Regions from separate parts of the Homo sapiens genome. Here region 1 is linked to region 2. The links come from fine-mapping of genetic effects on gene expression. A gene starts in region 2. The other region holds a variant in brackets. All regions are shown on one strand. Distances are from middle to middle.

The links. PIP is the estimated chance that this variant, and not a neighbour inherited with it, causes the effect.
Region 1: its variant is fine-mapped to the expression of LINC01587 in thyroid (GTEx, PIP 0.94).

What each region holds. Positions count from the first base shown.
Region 1 is chr4:5,543,497-5,551,496 of GRCh38, forward strand. LOC124900166 (a long non-coding RNA gene) reads right to left here and starts at 6,395. Exons shown (of 2, transcript XR_007058006.1): 1 at 1-6,395. It also overlaps a transcript of EVC2 not described here. The variant G/A (reference allele first, on the strand shown) is at 4,514.
Region 2 is chr4:5,518,973-5,529,800 of GRCh38, forward strand. It overlaps LINC01587 (long intergenic non-protein coding RNA 1587), which reads left to right and starts at 5,597. Exons shown (of 4, transcript NR_126519.1): 1 at 5,597-5,756; 2 at 6,435-6,524; 3 at 7,244-7,361; 4 at 8,416-8,829. It also overlaps a transcript of EVC2 not described here. RefSeq lists an enhancer at 5,982-7,181.

The DNA.
Region 1 (8,000 bases), 23 kb after region 2:
TTAGTATACAGAGTATACCACAAATAACAAAATTGGCAAAAATACATTACAAATAAAAACCAGTTTCCTAGCCCAACAGGAGGTAAGGTGCCAGGGGGACGAGGAAGAGAGGAGAATCGGGAAAGGGGCTGATGGGAGTGTGTTCCAGAAGGAGTTCCACACCAAATCCCTCCAGGAAGAACCATAGGGGTGGGGGATAATAGGGAATATTATAGAAACCCCAGGTAGGTAAGAGGTCAGGGGAACCGGAGAGGGAAATGGTACCTGCTTATTAATTGCAGTTCCAGCCCCTGTGGGGTTGGCACCAGGGCTGCGAGGGGCATCTGGGCAGGACACTCTCACAGCATCCACCACCCCTGCATAGCACATTTCTTGTGCCCAGAAAGGGGTGCAGGCCTCAGGCCTCAGGTCTCAGCTAAGCCCGAGGGCTCCAGGGCCATCATGAGGAGACCCAAGCACAGGTGACAGTGTGGGCACCCTCGTGACCAGTGGACAGGAGATCGACCTCAGAACATCAGGTCGGCAAATTGTGCACCTCCAGGTGCTCACGCGGTGGAACTGGGCACCAGACACCCACTTGCCACATGAAAACTGAAATCTATGAGAGAAGAGGGAGGGAGACACCCTGCGGTCACCTGAGTTTAAACTAAAATTAACTAGGAAATCACTGAATTTGACAGGGCTTACCTGGCCACAACCTAAGGCTTTTTGCAAAATGAATGTTGGCTAGAAATGGAAATGAAGTTGTTATGGAAAAAAAAAAAAAGAGAGAAAATTCTGTTTTCACAACCTTTATCTGCAAGTTGTCAAATAGTGGATCAACAGCAGAAGGAATTGATTGGTCCCTGCTTTCACAGAGCCCTCTGAGATTCAAATTTATTTTCTCTGGAAATAATTTGATTATCCGTCTCATGCTACCCCCCACACACATGCACGCACACAAGAGGTGCAATTCTGTGGAAAGTTTGGGTACCTCCCATACTCATTAGCCTTCAAAACAAGTGCAACACAATCAGTGCAGGAGTCAGAGAGCTGAGAGTGACTCCGTGGGAAGCCCTTGGCTGTTCAATCCTCCCAGGTCCCCAAGAGGGAAGAGTAGACTCCCATAATTCAAAAAAAATGAAACAGCTTCAGGACAAATCACCAGAGTTCTCCGCATATCACACTGGATGTTCACTTTGTAAACTCCAAAAATAGAATCACAGAGAACTAAACAGAGAAGAGAGGGGGTGAGGAGTTACCAATACTGTGGGGAAAACATGGAGTGAGTGACCACCGTTGGATGCTCAGGATTGGGACCCACAGATCAAAACTCGGTTTCTCAACCTGTTCCTCCCAAGGACATACAGATCCAGCCCTGCAGCCCCCAGCACCAGCCCTGCCCACCCTGGCTCCCTTAGCTTCAGAGCCTCCTCACTCCTGTCTCTCCAGCCACAGTAAAATCCCTACAGCACTGGCACTGCACCTCAAGCCTGAGCACATGCTGTTCCTTCTGCTTCCAACACCCTTCACTGACACAGCCTGCTGCTCGGCCCTCCAGGCTCAGGTGCAACGTTCTATTCTTCGTGTAGTTTACCTGAGGCACTCCCAGAAAGGGGGCTTCCTTCCACAATGCTTCACAACACCTATAGATGGCCCTGTATGGGATCTGTGTCCCCATGTAGATAGTGAGCTCCTCTCCAGGAGACATTCGCTCATTCATTCATTCATCCATTGAACAAACATTTACTGAATATCTACTAGATGCCCATAAATAAATGACACACAGAAATGGTTGAAAGAATAAATAGATAATGATTCCACTTTCAGGCCAGGGAAGTCAGTATGGTGTGTTAGAAAGAACACAGGCTTCCGAGTCAGACAGATGAGTTAGAAGCCTGACTCTGGAATTTGCTAAGCTGGTGACTCTGAGGGAATTACTCATCTGAGCCCAGTTTCCTCAGATATAAAAATGAGAACAGTAACAGGTAATGTTTGCTTCTGATATTATTATTCATTACTCAAAACACAGAGTTATCAGGAGGAAGCAGGAATCTATGCAGAAGACAGGAGCTTCCTCTCCCTGCAAGAGAAGAGGCTGGACCATCTCTGGTTCCCTACTGGCCACATGGGAATTTGGCAGAGACGAGTTACCTACCCAAACCCTTTCTCCCTTTCTATCATACTAGAGAGTCCCAATTTAAAATGACCTTTCTTATCATCCCTTGCAAGTTGGGGTGGTCATGGGACTCAGTTCTGTATAAAGATTTAGTATAAAGATTATACCACAAATAACAAAATTGGCAAAAAAAACCATTACAAATAAAAATCCATTTTCTAGTCCAACAGGAGGTAAGGTGCTGCAGGGATGAGGAAGAGAGGAGAATTGGGAAATGATTTGCAAGAAGATGTCACTAAGTGGGGCTTCTGGAAAAGCTCTTAAAAGGGAAAAGAAGACATTTATGCAGCCACAAAACACATGAAAAAATGCTCACCATCACTGGCCATCAGAGAAATGCAAATCAAAACCACAATGAGATACCATCTCACACCAGTTAGAATGGCAATCATTAAAAAGTCAGGAAACAACAGGTGCTGGAGAGGATGTGGAGAAACAGGAACACTTTTACACTGTTGGTGGGACTGTAAACTAGTTCAACCATTGTGGAAGTGAGTGTGGCAATTCCTCGGGGATCTAGAACTAGACATACCATTTGACCCAGCCATCCCATTACTGGGTATATACCCAAAGGACTATAAATCATGCTGCTATAAAGGCACATGCATACGTATGTTTACTGCGGCACTGTTCACAATAGCAAAGACTTGGAACCAACCTAAATGTCCAACAACGATAGACTGGATTAAGGAAACGTGGCACATATACACCATGGAATACTATGCAGCCATAAAAAAATGATGAGTTCATGTCCTTTGTAGGGACATGGATGAAACTGGAAACCATCATTCTCAGCAAACTATCGCAAGGACAAAAAACCAAACACCGCATGTTCTCACTCATAGGTGGGAATTGAACAATGAGAACACATGGACACAGGAAGGGGAACATCACACACCAGGGACCATTGTGGGGTGGGGGGATGGGGCAGGGATAGCATTAGGAGATATACCTAATGCTAAATGACGAGTTAGTGGGTGCAGCACACCAACATGGCACATGTATACATATGTAACAAACCTGCATGTTGTGCACATGTACCCTAAAACTTAAAGTATAATAATAATAAAATTGAAAAAAAAAAGGGAACTGACATAGCTATTACACTTTGCTCTATTGCTTTCTCCATCTGATGGCAGCAGCAGCCTGTCTAGAGTGGCTGCTGCCATCATGCTGGCTGCAGCAAGGAGGCATACTCCATGGAGCTGGTGGGAGCCAGGGACAAGTGGGAGCCCTGCACCTTCCAGATTGGTGGGGAAGGAGCTTCCCTGGTGCAGCCACAGCTGCCCAAGTTGTGACTGTGGAACCAGGCCTTCTACTCCATGGAGCAGGCAGGAGCCCCACCCCTGTGGCCACAGCTACAGCCTCCCAAACCACAGCTGCAGACTCAGGAATCTCTGCACTCTTGGGGGTCCAGGAAGGCCCCCATGCCCTTGCAGGCTCAGAAATGCCTGCTCCCACTGCCTGGCTTCTCCCTGCTGTTGGTGCCTGCTCCGATCTCAGAGCAAAGTCAGGGCCAAGTCACAGCTTCGCCAGGTGTGCACACACTTTGGGCGGTGCTGACATGCCAGCCCCCCACTGCCTCAGCCCCCTCTGGACTTTGGACACCAATAAGCATAGGAGGGAAGCCAAAGGGGTGCTGAAGGCAGCTTATGGCTGGCCTGCAGGTGCCTCTTGGCACCTACAGCCTGGGCGCCATGAATGGCAGCAGGAGGCAGAGAGGTTCCTGGGTGGAAGGGGGCAGATCCCCAGTGAGGCACCACCTTCAGGCCCTCCTTCAGGGAGGGAGGATCTGTAGGCTGGGGGCCCAGCTGCCGGTCCCACGGACCAGAGTGGGAACTTGTGGTGCCTTTTCCAGGCCATTCATGGCCATCCATGGACCAACTGGCATACACTTCCTCCCCTCTGAAGCCCATACAAGCCCCAGGTTCAGCCAAAGCTGAGCAGACATCAGGATGACCAGCTGCAGAGAGGAGCTACCCACTCCTGGGCCTCCTCTGAGCTACTGTGTCACTCAATAAAGCTCCTCTTCACCTTGCTTACCCTCCACTTGTCTGCGTGCTTCATTCTTCTTGGACGCAGGATAAGAACTTGGGACCTGCGGAAGGCAGGCTGAAAGAGCTATAACACAAACAGGGCTGAAACATACCCCTTGCTCGCCATGTTGTGGTTGAAGAGAAGAGAAGAGCTTCAGCCCTTCAGTAAGCCCAGACCTGGGAGCTCCCTGAGCCAAGGCTGTGACTTCCTCTTTGGGGCCCAGTGGTTCCTGGATTCTCCAAGCTTCCGTGTGCCACCGCATTCCCCAGTGGCAGCCATGGAAGCTACCTGTGGTGCACCTGGTCTAGCCACAGCCTC[G/A]CAGAGAGTCGGTGCCCACGCCGGCACCTGGAGCTGCCCACCCCATTGCAGCAGCTGGTGTGCCTGACTGTGCACGGTGGCTGGACCCCTCGCTGGTTCACTCACACACCCCTTGCCACTCCATGCCTTGCTGCCTTTGGCAGGCATGGGATCTAGGCTGGTAGTGTGAGCCAAGCACAGCCTGCCAGGACAAGTGGGAAAAATGAACCCAGCAGGCCCAAGCAAAACTTGGGCAAAGGTGCCACCAGCCACAGAGATTTCCAGCCAGAAAAGTGATACCCCAAAGATCCCTCAAAACTTCTCTTCACCTGGAATGAGGAAGAAATGATGGGAGCTGCAGCAGCCACCTTGAAACCATGAGACAACCTTGAGGGTGGAAGCCATGCATCTAGGATGACCAAGCAGAAAGATGGCATTGATGACATTGTGGAGCTCTTCTCCAGCCCACCTTGCCTACTTCTAAGTTGTGTGTCACATGTGAGGAAATTAAACACATATTTTATTTAAATCACTACTATTTACATGCAGTGGAACTCAATGTTTATCTGATGCAGAGAGTGTCTGCAGAAAATTTACCCAATCATAGAAAAGTACAATAATTGCTAAGAAGAATCATTTTGTGGTTGATTATTGTTATGTGAAATGGATTTTAGATACCCCTAAGCCAGAAATATGATTACAAGGTAAAATATGAAAAATTATTTTCTCTATTCCAAACCTGTGATTTCAGATATCATTTTTTGTGCTCTTATCTGATGACAAAGGCAATAGAGATTCATTTACACAAATTTGGAAGCTACAGAAGGCACAAAGGAAAAATAAAAGAAAATCACCTGTAGATGACCCTCCAGGGACAAGCAGTGCTAACATTTGCTCTACTTTCCTTGTTGTTTTTATTTATATGTACTCACTTACTAAAACAAGAGCCCTTCCTTCCTTCCTTCCTTCCTTCCTTCCTTCCTTCTTTCTTTCTTTCTTCCGTCCCTCCCTCCCTCCCTCCCTGAATAGACAGTGATTGAAGGCTGGGTACTATCATTTAATACTGCTTCTTTTTTTATTACCATTATTTACTAAAGCTTTCTCAGGTCATCAAATATTCATTAACATAATTTTGAAACTGAATAGCAACAATAAAACTAACCTACAATTTTTATATTAAGATATATTGTTATAATGTCAATATAATTTCATCAATAATACAACACAACTAGCCATCATTGATTAGGCACTTAACCTGTACTGGGTACCCGGGTACGGGAGTTTGCTTTCTATTTTACTCCCTGCAATAATTGTAAGATGAGGATTGTTTCATATCCTCCTTCGACAGGGGAATACAATGAGTAGTAAAGAGGTTGAAGAACTTGTCCAGGGTCTCACAGGTAGTCTGAGGGGCTAAGCAGAGCCTAACACAGGGGCTGTCCCCTGACAATGCCCACATGTGCATCTCCCATTCTGCCACACAGATTTTCTTCATAGTGATTTAAAGCATTTACCCATTTTCCAGCTGATGTGCTCATCATTGGACATTTAGTCTTTCTGATCTTCACGATCCGCTTACTTAGCCAGTGATACAGTCTCCATTTTACAAATAAGAAAAATGAAGCTGTGAGGTCAAACCCTCTCACAGAAGTGACAGAACCGAGAATGAACCCAGAATTCTGATTCCAAATACCAAGGACTTTGAGGTTTTTAATAAAAGTAATGCATATCCAAAGTTTAGAAGTAAATAACTGAATGAATTTTATGGCATAAGACAACAGGCCCTGCTCACTCTTCCTTCCCTTTATATGGTTTTGCTGTATCCCCCCAAATCTAATCTTGAATTCCCACATGTTGTGGGAGGTAATTGAATCATGGGGGCTGGTCTTTCCTGTGCTGTTCTTGTGATAGTGAATAAGTCTTATGAAATCTGATGGTTTTAAAAATGGGAGTTTGCCTGCACAAACTCATTTTGCCTGCTGTCATCCATGTAATATGTGACTTGCTCGTCCTTGCTTTCTGCCATGATTGTGAAGCCTCCCCAGCCATGTGAAACTGTAAGTCTATTCAGCATTTTTCCTGTATAAATTGCCCAGTCTCGGATGTGTCTTTATTAGCAGTGTGAAAATGAACTAATACAGTAAATTGGTACTGGGAGTGGGGTGCTGCTGAAAAGATACCCAAAAATGTGGAAGCAACTTTGGAACTGGGTATCAGACATGTTGGAACAGTTTGGAGGGCTCAGAAGAAGACAGGAAAATGTGGGAAAGTTTGGAACTCCATAGAGACTTGTTGAATGGCTTTGACCAAAATACTGATAATGATATGGACAATGAAATCCAGGCTGAGGTGGTCTCAGATGGAGATGAGGAACCTGTTGGGAACCAGAGCGAAGGTGACTCTTGTTATGTTTTAGCAAAGAGACTGGTGGCATTTTGCCCCTATCCTAGAGATTTGTGGAACTCTGAACTTAAAGAGATGATTTAGGGTATCCGGCGGAAGAAATTTCTAGCAGCAAAGCATTCAAGAGGTGACTTGCGTGCTGTTAAAGGCATTCAGTTTTAAAGGGGAAACAGAGCATAAAAGTTTGGAAAATTTGCAGCCTGAGAACGCAATAGAAAAGAAAATCCTATCTTCTGTGGAGAAATTCAAGCCAGCTGCAGAAATTTGCATAAGTAATGAGGAGCCCAATGTTAATCCCCAAGACAATGGGGAAAATGTCTCCAGGGCAGGTCAGAAGTCTTCACAGCAGCCCCTACCATCACAGGCCTGGAGGCTTAGGAAGAAAAAGTGGTTTTGTGGGCCTGGCCCACGGTCCCCATGCTGTGTGCAGCCTAGGGACTTGGTGCCCTGCATCCCAGCTGCTCCAGCCATGGCTGAAAGGGGCCAACATAGAGCTCAGGCTGTGGCTTCAGAGGATGCAAGCCCCAAGCCTTGGCAGCCACGTGGTGTTGAGCCTGTGAGTGCACAGAAGTCAAAAATTGTGGTTTGGGAACCTCTGCCTAGATTTCAGAAATTGTATGGAAATGCCTGGATGTCCAGGCAGAGGTGTGCTGCAGGGGTGGGGCCCTCATGGAGAACCTCTGCCAGGGCAGTGTGAAAGGAAAATGTGGGGTTGGAGCACCCACACAGAGTCCCTACTGGGGCATCACCTAGTGGAGCCGTGAGAAGAGGGCCACTGTACTCCAGACCCCAGAATGGTAGATCCACTGACAGCTTGCATCATGCACCTGGAAAAGCTGCAGACACTCAATGCCAGCCCATGAAAGCAGCCAGGAGGGGGGCTGTGCCCTTCAAAGACACAGGGGTAGAGTTGCCCAAGACTAGGGGAACTCACCTCTTGCAACAGCATGACCTGGATGTGAGACATGGAATCAAAGGACATCATTTTGGAGCTGTAAGATTTGACTGCCCTGCTGGATTTTGGGCTTGCATGGGGCCTGTAGCCCCTCTCTTTTGGTCAATTTCTCCCATTTGGAATGGCTGTATTTACCCAATGCCTGTACCT
Region 2 (10,828 bases):
AGGAATGATCAGGCAGCAGAATTTGCGGTTCACGAAAATCCACAGTACAACAGCCACCCCTGCTGATACCCAGGCAAACAGGGTCTGGAGTGGACCTCTAGCAAACTCCAACAGACCTGCAGCTGAGGGTCCTGTCTGTTAGAAGGAAAACTAACAAACAGAAATTACATCCACACCAAAACCCCATCTGTACATCACCATCATCAAAGACCAAAAGTAGATAAAACCACAAAGATGGGGAAAAAATAGAGCAGAAAAACTGGAAACTCTAAAAAGCAGAGCGCCTCTCCTCCAAAGGAACGCAGTTCCTCACCAGCAATAGAACAAAGCTGGATGGAGAATGACTTGGACGAGTTGAGAGAAGAAGGCTTCAGACGATCAAACTACTCCGAGCTACAGGAGGAAATTCAAACCAATGGCAAAGAAGTTAAAAACTTGGAAAAAAATTAGACGAATGGATAACTAGAATAACCAATGCAGAGAAGTCCTTAAAGGACCTGATGGAGCTGAAAACCAAGGCTCAAGAACTACATAAAGAATGCAGAAGCCTCAGGAGCTGATGCGATCAACTGGAAGAAAGGGTATCAGTGATGGAAGATGAATGAAATGAAGCGAGAAGGGAAGTTTAGAGAAAAAAGAATAAAAAGAAAGGGACAAAGTCTCCAGGAAATATAGGACTATGTGAGAAGACCAAATCTATGTCTGATTGGTGTACCTGAAAGTGACGGGGAGAATAGAACCAAGTTGGAAAACACTCTGAAGGATATTATCCAGGAGAACCTCCCCAATCTAGCAAGGCAGGCCAACATTCAGATTCAGGAAATACAGAGAACACCACAAAGATACTCCTCGAGAAAAGCAGCTCCAAGACACATAATTGTTAGATTCACCAAAGTTGAAATGAAGGAAAAAATGTTAAGGGCACCCAGAGAGAAAGGTCGGGTTACCCACAAAGGGAAGCCCATCAGACTAACAGGTGATCGCTCGGCAGAAACTCTACAAGCCAGAAGAGAGTGGGGGCCAATATCCAACATTCCTAAAGAAAATAATTTTCAACCCAAAATTTCATATCCAGCCAAACTAAGATTCATAAGTGAAGGAGAAATAAAATACTTTACAGACAAGCAAATGCTGAGAGATTGTGTCACCACCAGGCCTGCCCTAAAAGAGCTCCTGAACGAAGCACTAAACATGGAAAGGAACAACCGGTACCAGCCACTGCAAAAACATGCCAAATTGTAAAGACCATGGAGGCTAGGAAGAAACTGCATCAACTAATGAGCAAAATAACCAGCTAACATCATAATAACAGAAACAAATTCACACATAACAATATTAACTTTAAATGTAAATGGACTAAATGCTCCAGTTAAAAGACACAGACTGGCAAAATGGATAAAGAGTCAAGACCCATCAGTGTGCTGTATTCAGGAAACCAATCTCATGTGCAGAGACACACGTAGGCTCAAAATAAAGCAAATGGAAAACAAAAAAAGGTAGGGGTTGCAATCCTAGTCTCTGATAAAACAGAATTTAAACCAACAAAGATCAAAAGAGACCAGGCCATTACATAATGGTAAAGGGATCAATTCAACAAGAAGAGCTAACTATCCTAAATATATATGCACCCAATACAAGAGCACCCAGATTCATAAAGCAAGTCCTGAGTGAACTACAAAGAGACTTAGACTCCCACACAATAATAATGGGAGACTTTAACACCCCACTGTCAACATTAGACAGATCAATGAGACAGAAAGTTAACAAGGATACCCAGGAATTGAACTCAGCTCTGCACCAAGCAGACCTAATAGATATGTACAGAACTCTCCACCCCAAATCAACAGAATATACATTTTTTTTCAGCACCACACCACACCTATTTCAAAATTGACCACATACTTGGAAGTAATGCTCTCCTCAGCAAATGTAAAAGAACAGAAATTATAACAAACTTTCTCTCAGACCACAGTACAATCAAACTACAACTCAGGATTAAGAAACTCACTCAAAACCGCTCAACTACACGGAAACTGAACAACCTGCTCCTGAATGACTACTGGGTACATAACAAAATGAAGGCAGAAATAAAGATGTTCTTTGAAACCAACCAGAAGAAAGACACAACATACCAGAATCTCTGGGACGCATTCAAAGCAGTGTGTAGAGGGAAATTTATAGCACTAAATGCCCACAAGAGAAAGCAGGAAAGATCCAAAATTGACACCCTAACATCACAATTAAAAGAACTAGAAAAGCAAGAGCGTACACATTCAAAAGCTAGTAGAAGGCAGGAAATAACTAAAATCAGAGCAGAACTGAAGGAAATAGAGACATAAAAAACCCTTCAAAAAATTAATGAATCCAGAAGCTGGTTTTTTGAGAAGATCAACAAAATTGATAGACTGCTAGCAAGACTAATAAAGAAGAAAAGAGAGAAGAATCAAATAGACCCAATAAAAAATGATAAAGGGGATATCACCACCGATCCCACAGAAATACAAACTACCATCAGAGAATACTACAAACACCTCTACGCAAATAAACTAGAAAATCTAGAAGAAATGGATAAATTCCTCGACACATACGCCCTCCCAACACTAAACCAGGAGGAAGTTGAATCTCTGAATAGACCAATAACAGGCTCTGAAATTGTGGCAATATTCAATAGCTTACCAACCAAAAAGAGTTCAGGACCAGATGGATTCACAGCCGAATTCTATCACAGGTACAAGAAGGAGCTGGTACCATTCCTTCTGAAATGATTCCAATCAATAGAAAAAGAGGGAATCCTCCCTAACTCATTTTATGAGGCCAGCATCATCCTGATACCAAAGCCGGGCAGAGACACAACCAAAAAAGAGAATTTTAGACCAATATCCTTGATGAACATTGATGCAAAAATCCTCAATAAAATACTGGCAAACCGAATCCAGCAGCACATCAAAAAGCTTATCTACCATGATCAAGTGAGCTTCATCCCTGGGATGCAAGGCTGGTTCAACATACACAAATCAATAAATGTAATCCAGCATATAAACAAAACCAAAGACAAAAACCACATGATTATCTCAATAGATGCAGAAAAGGCCTTTGACAAAATTCAACAACCTTCATGCTAAAAACTCTCAAGAAATTCTGTATTGATGGGACGTATCTCAAAATAGTAAGAGCTATCTATGACAAACCCACAGCCAATATCATGCTGAATGGGCAAAAACTGGAAGCATTCCCTTTGAAAACTGGCACAAGACAGGGATGCCCTCTCTCACCACTCCTATTCAACATAGTGTTGGAAGTTCTGGCCAGGGCAATTAGGCAGGAGAAGGAAATAAAGTGTGTTCAATTTGGAAAAGAGGAAGTCAAATTGTCCCTGTTTGCAGATGACATGATTGTATATCTAGAAAACCCCATTGTCTCAGCCCAAAGTCTCCTTAAGCTGATAAGCAACTTCAGCAAAGTCTCAGGATACAAAATCAATGTACAAAAATCACAAGCATTCTTATACACCAATAACAGACAAACAGAGAGCCAAATCATGAGTGAACTCCCATTCACTATTGCTTCAAAGAGAATAAAATACCTAGGAATCCAACTTACAAGGGATGTGAAGGACCTCTTCAAGAAGAACTACAAACCACTGCTCAATGAAATAAAAGAAGATACAAACAAATGGAAGAACATTCCATGCTCATGGGTAGGAAGAATCAATATCGTGAAAACGGCCATACTGCCCAAGGTAATTTATAGATTCAATGCCATCCCCATCAAGCTACCAATGACTTTCTTCACAGAATTGGAAAAAACTACTTTAAAGTTCATATGGAATCAAAAAAGAGCCCGCATCACCAAGTGAATCCTAAGCCAAAAGAACAAAGCCGCAGGCATCACGCTACCTGACTTCAAACTATACTACAAGGCTACAGTAACCAAAACAGCATGGTACTGGTACCAAAACAGAGATATAGATCAATGGAACAGAACAGAGCCCTCAGAAATAATGCCACATATCTACAACTATCTGATCTTTGACAAACCTGAGAAAAACAAGCAATGGGGAAAGGATTCCCTATTTAATAAATGGTGCTGGGAAAACTGGCTAGCCATATGGAGAAAGCTGAAACTGGATCCCTTCCTTACACCTTATACAAAAATTAATTCAAGATGGATTAAAGACTTAAATGTTAGACCTAAAACCATGAAAACCCTAGAAGAAAACCTAGGCAATACCATTCAGGACATAGGCATGGGCAAGGATTTCATGTCTAAAACACCAAAAGCAATGGTAACAAAAGCCAAAATTGACAAATGGGATCTAATTAAACGAAAGAGCTTCTGCACAGCAAAAGAAACTACCATCAGAGTGAACAGGCAACCGACAAAATAGGAGAACATTTTCCCAACCTACTCATCTGACAAAGGGCTAATATCCAGAATCTACAATGAACTCAAACAAATTTACAAGAAAAAAACAAACAACCTCATCAAAAACTGGGCGAAGGATATGAACAGACACTTCTCAAAAGGAGACATTTATGCAGCCAAAAGAGACATGAAAAAATGCTCCTCATCACTAGCCATCAGAGAAATGCAAATCAAAACCACAATGAGATACCATCTCACACCAGTTAGAATGGCAATCATTAAAAAGTCAGGAAACAACAGGTGCTGGAGAGGATGTGGAGAAATAGGAACACTTTTACACTGTTGGTGGGACTGTAAACTAGTTCAACCATTGTGGAAGTGAGTGTGGCGATTCCTCAGGGTTCTAGAACTAGAAATACCATTTGACCCAGCCATCCCATTACTGGGTATATACCCAAAGGAATATAAATCTTGCTGCTATAAAGACACATGCACACGTATGTTTATTGCGGCACTATTCACAATAGCAAAGACTTGGAACCAACCCAAATGTCCAACAACGATAGACTGGATTAAGAAAATATGGCACATCCACACCATGGAATACTATGCAGCCATAAAAAATGATGAGTTCATGCTAAATGACGTGCATTATGGGTGCGAAATGTGCTAAATGGGTGCAGTACACCAACTTGGCACATGTATACATATGTAACAAATCTGCAAATTGTGCACATGTACCCTAAAACTTAAAGTATAATAATATTGCTGGTTTAATTAAATCAGCAAACTTTAAGTAGGTTTTTATTTACCAAAGATTATGTAAAACCACGTGAACTTGAAAAACACTTAGGTTAGTTTCTCTTTTTCTGAGATAACAATTTATATAAGTTTTTTTTTCTTTTAAGCCAAATCTTCACATAGGTACCAATAGGACAGTTACTTAGGATGAGAGTTCTCTTAAAAAAAATACTTTTAGATACAAAAGTCCAAATTTTCAAAGGTATACCTACTTCAGTTTTGACTCAAAACTGATCATCTTTTTATGGTTTAATCATGGACAAAAGAGGCATCCATAAAGAGGGTACAGAAGTCCCACCCCCACCCCAGATCCAAAGTTTCCTCCAAGGATACCTAAGAAAGTGAAGACCCTCATTGTTAACAGGGCAACAAAGGCTGAGACAATTACGACAAACTGTCCTGAGAGCTGGCACAGTTCATACAAAGAGACACTTCTTGTTTCAGAATCCTGGAGAGCTGGCTAACTGCTGGGCACAAGCCCAACAGCTTGAGCCCCAGGCTGATAGAAACCAAAGAGCACATTTTCACTGATTACAAAGCCAAGCTCTTATGACTTCAGAGAAGATGAAGCAGAGTCTGATGCAGGACAGGTGAGCCTCAAAATTGGGGATCAACCTGAGAGGGTTGTTGGCTTCACCCAGGAACGAACTCAAGGGTGAGCCAGTGGTGACAGAAAGCAGTGTTTATGGAGCCAGTGCTGCTCCTTGCAGAGCAGGGCTAACCCATAAGCAGTGTGCCCAGAGTCAGCAATGTGTAAGCTGTTGGCAGCTGTATTTATACCCACTTTTAATTATATGCTAATTAAGAGGTGGATTATTCAGAACATTCTGGAAAAGGGGCCGAGAGCGTCCAGAACCATATATGGTAACTTCCAGGCCATTGCTATGGCCCATTGCCATGGCATGTGTAAACTGTCACGGCACCCATGGGAATGTCTTTATGCTAATGAGTAGTGAGGGCAACTACAGGTCACTTTCATGGCCATCTGCTTATTTTGGCTGGCTTCTTCACTGCATTCTGTTTCAACCATATCCTTTCAAACCAGATCAGTGAGGTCATGACCAGAAAACAAGCCCTGCCAGCCTCCTACCTCAAATCTAATTAATTATAATTTTCTTCCTTATGACAACCCACACAAAAGACAGAGATAAGAAAAACAAGGACTTCCTGGGAGGCTGTGGATCAATTACCAATGGACACCCAGAAGCAAATTCACAAGACTCACAATTCAAAGAACCAATTTTTTACAATTTTTTTTTTCCTGTCAGTTGAATTTGGGAAGGAAGGAACACGCAAAAATTTTTACCTTCTTCTTTCAATTGGACACTATGGACGGAAATCCAGGAGAGCTGACCTTGGTAAGAATTCCTACTTTCTTCCATCATTTATTAGGCCCCTCAGGATCCCATCTGCAGGCTCCAGAGTGAGTCGGAAGGTGCTCAGCCTTTTAGGACAGAAACTGTTGGGACAGAAGAATACTACTTCACCCTTTTAGGGTCCCAGGAGGGTCCAAGAATTACATTGACATAACATAGATTAACAGGAGCAAAGCACAACACAAGTTTTACATAGCATAGGAGCCTCATAAAGAAATAAAGACACAAAGAAGCTGTCAGAGTCAGTTAATTCTTTACCAGATTTGACAAAGAATTATAAACTGTAAACATGTGATCAGGCAAAGGGTCTTGGGCTAGGGTGGTTAACTGGATAGAGAAGTAGCCAGCATGACAAGTGTTAGTTGAACAAGGCTTGTTTGTACAAAATTCGTTCCACTTCAACTTTCTTGTCCTTGATGATAAGAACCTTGCTTTTTCTCTAGTGTAGGGAGGACATCTTTCACATGGGAATTTCATCTTCTGCTTTTAAGAAAATGAAGTTCAGACTGATCTCTTTGCACCTGCTGTTTTTCAAGTGCCTTTAACTGAAATAGTCAACCTACCAAAAGAGCATATTTTAGCCCCTTCAGGAATGTTGATTTTGTTTATTTTCACGCATTGCTTTTATAATTATAAAAGCTCATTTTATAATTATATAAAAGGAGACCTGGGAACACCAGCCTTCTTCCCTCTACATACAGGAACTGCAGACACTGCAGATAAAACAGAGCCAGAATGCTTTGCTGCCAGCTGGACCTTTGACCCAAACCCCAGTGTGACTGTCTCCGGTGCTCACTCAACTGCAGTGCATCAATGAAGGTAACTTTCTGTCCAGATCATGGAGTCTACATGAAAAGAAATCAATGCAATCCTATTTTTTTTTTTTTTTACTGCTTTCTCTCTCTCAATTCTTGGATTAAAGAAAAACAGCAGACCCTGATGGTGCCCAGCTCAGACCCCCTCTGAAGCCTTTTACCAGCCCTGTGCATCCAGCCCAGCCCCTGTATGCCCTGCTGCTAAGTTTCCCCTGAGCACTGGGGCCTTCCCTGGAGAGCTGGAACAACTTGGCAACTCATTCTCAGCCCTTCCCATCCCCCCTAAGCCACAGCCAGTGACTGACCATTGTGGGAATACAAAAGCCCAGCACCTGTGCCTTGGAGAGGACAAACTCTGAGATATCATCTCTGCTTCAGCACACCACTCAAGACCAAGATGAGGCTGGGGTGTCACCCAAGATGATACACTTGTTGAGTCTCCTCTCCTCCCCTATTTGTGCCCCACCCCCAACTCCCTCACTGGTACATCTCGGGAGCACTGCCTCAACAAATCCCTTGCATTGAATCCTTGGCTCAGGCTCTGCTTCTAGGAGAATATGACCTACTGGGGACAATAGTAATGGTGAATACAGTGGTGAACCAAACAAAGCAGGCTTTGACTTCATGAAGCTAATGGGGAAGAATAACTATCATTTCATTGATTGGATGCTTGGCACAGAAGGAGGAGTACCTATATTCATAGATGAATTCTGTCAGGCAAGGTGGGGGAGTTGCTTCAGCCATCCTCTTTGGTGCTTATTCTAAGTGTGCTGTTTCCAGCATCCCAGCTTCTCAAATGCACTGTGCTGCCTTCAGACACAGGGCCTACGGAAAGTGTGTCCACATTTATTGGGAGGGGGAGAGCCAACCTTCGCCTTTGTGCCAAGTCTCCTAAGAACAAACACGCAGAGCCTGCTCCCAGATGGACAAAGGTCCAACTCCCTTTGTCTTCCCCTTAGAAGGCAGTCTCCTGAGACTCTGCCTTGAAGAAGTAGGATTGTGTCTGATGTGTTTATGTTTGTGGGGTTTTCATGTGTTTTCTTTTTTATCTTCCCTAGGAAAAAAGAACTGAGCATTGGCAAAAAGCTGAGGATGACAAGCTTAGGGGATGAAAGGCTGCCTTTTCCCCCCCTTCTGAGCGTTTCTGACAGCTCCCAGCTGGGAGAAACCAACATGACGAAAAGACAAAGAATACTGGAGAAGAGAGAGGGTGGGCAGAGCCACAACCTCATCCTCCCAGTGGTTCCTCTTGAGTTTGATTTGACAAGATGCCTTCCCACCCAGGTAACCCCGTGGGAACGTGCCAGTACCTCACCGCACGACCTCACTGAGTCCTCACAACAAATCCAGGCTGCAGATTTTTTTCCCCACTTGGAGATGACAAATTGAAATGCAGGAAGGTTAAAGAGTTTGCCTGAGGTTGCTTAGATAATAAAAGAATCTGGATTAGAACCCAGACCTACCCAGCTAAACAACTGAGTCCTTTTTTACTGGATTACACCTATCTCATGGGCATAATTTTATCTACAGTCTCTCTCTATTCCAGTGTTTAAGATAAATCCTGTGAGGGTTAAATGAGATCATGCATGTTCAGCACTTAGCCTGGAGACTGGTGTCAGACAAGCACTCTATAAATGCTACCTAGCCTTGTTATTGCTGTTGATGGTGTTGCTGCTGTTTTTGTTATTGTTACTGCTGCTGCTGCTACTGCTCTTGCTATTTTTGCTGCTGTTTCTGCAGATTATGTGGTTGCTGATGTTTTTGCTGTTGTTGGTGACAGTGTTTTCACTACTGTTCTGATTATTTTTGATACCGCTGTTGTTGCCATTTTGTGGCAGTTGTTGCTGCTGATGTGCTGCTACTGTTGCTGTGATGATGCTGTTGACATTGTCACTGTGGATGTTGCAATGATGCTGTTGACAGTGTCACTGTGGATGCTGTGATGATGTTGTTGCTGTGGATGTTGTGATGATGCTGTTGAAGCTTTACTGTGGATGCCGTGATGGTGGTGTTGACACTTACTATGGATGTTGTGATGACGCTGTTAACACATTTACTGTAGATGTTGGCGTGATGCTGTTAACACAGTTGCTGTGGATGTTGTGATGATGTTACTATGGGCACAGTGATGTGCTGTTGACACTATTACTGTGGGTGCCGTGTCACGATGAGGCTATTGACACTATTACTACAGGTGTTGTGATGATGCTGCTGATGTTGTTTCTTGATACTGTTATATCGCTGTTGATGTTGTAACTATGGAAGTAGTGATGATGCTCTAGACACTGTTTCTGTAGATGTTGTGATGCTGCTGTTGGCATTGTTACTGTGGGTGTTGTGATGATACTGTTGACATTACTGCGGGTGTTGTGATGATGCTGTTGATGCTGCTACTGCGGATGTTGTGATGATGCTGTTGGCGTTGTTACTGTTAATGTTCTTGCTGATGTGGTTGACAGTGCTATTGTTGCTATTTTTATTCTTGTTGCTGAGATGTTATTCTATTGTCGTTGTTGCTGCTGTTGGCACTACTGCTGTGCTGCTATTGTTGATGTGATAATGTTGTTGACGTTACTAATGTTGATGTTGTTGTTGATGATGTTGGTGTTAATATACCCATCCAGACTCACTACTTTTGTTACACACTTCCAAACCAAATTTAATGTAGGCATAACTTACTAGTCGTACAAGGATATATATATAGCTTACCCCTCATGTTTCCACGGAGGCCGAGAATTTCCATTCCACTCTCCGGGAGAGATTTTGAGAGCCATCTGTAGCCTCTGCCTCCTTGCTGAATGGGGCACACTCCTCTCAGCCATCCCTTTCAGAAATCTATGCTGGTCAATGGTACATGTGACTGGGAGAATGAGGCTACCTCATTCAGGGGGTAAAGTAGGAGGAATCCCATATGGCTACCCACCTCAGGTACATGGGTCAATTCAGCCTTTTAGTGTGATATTTTCATCCTCATCTGTCTCGCTCCTGTGTCTTAATTGGTTCAAAATTAGGAGATGAAGAAATAGGTGCTATATTTACCTCCAAGACAACAACCAAGTCTTCGTGATATAATTCAATTCGCTTTTTACCTCCCCGAAGAATCCTTTCCTTATTTCTACAACCCACAGTGGTCTCACCCAACTATGAAGTTTTATAGCAGTTTGTTATTTTCTCACATGCCAATAAATATTGTGAAATATGTGAACCTGGCTAGACTGTGAGCTCCTTCAGACTAAGAACATATCTTAAAACATCCTCTCACTTATTGTGGTTCTAGACACATAGTAGGTGCTCAATAAATGCTTGTAAATTGAAATACATTGGAAGCTTAATACTTAGGAATGTTCCCATGTGGCTGAGTTTTTATGCCATCCTATGTTTTTGAATAAAAAATATTAATTGGAAATTTGTGTTCCAGAACTTACATATGATGCATGAATGCCCTTGATGATACAGAAATGGGAAGAACTG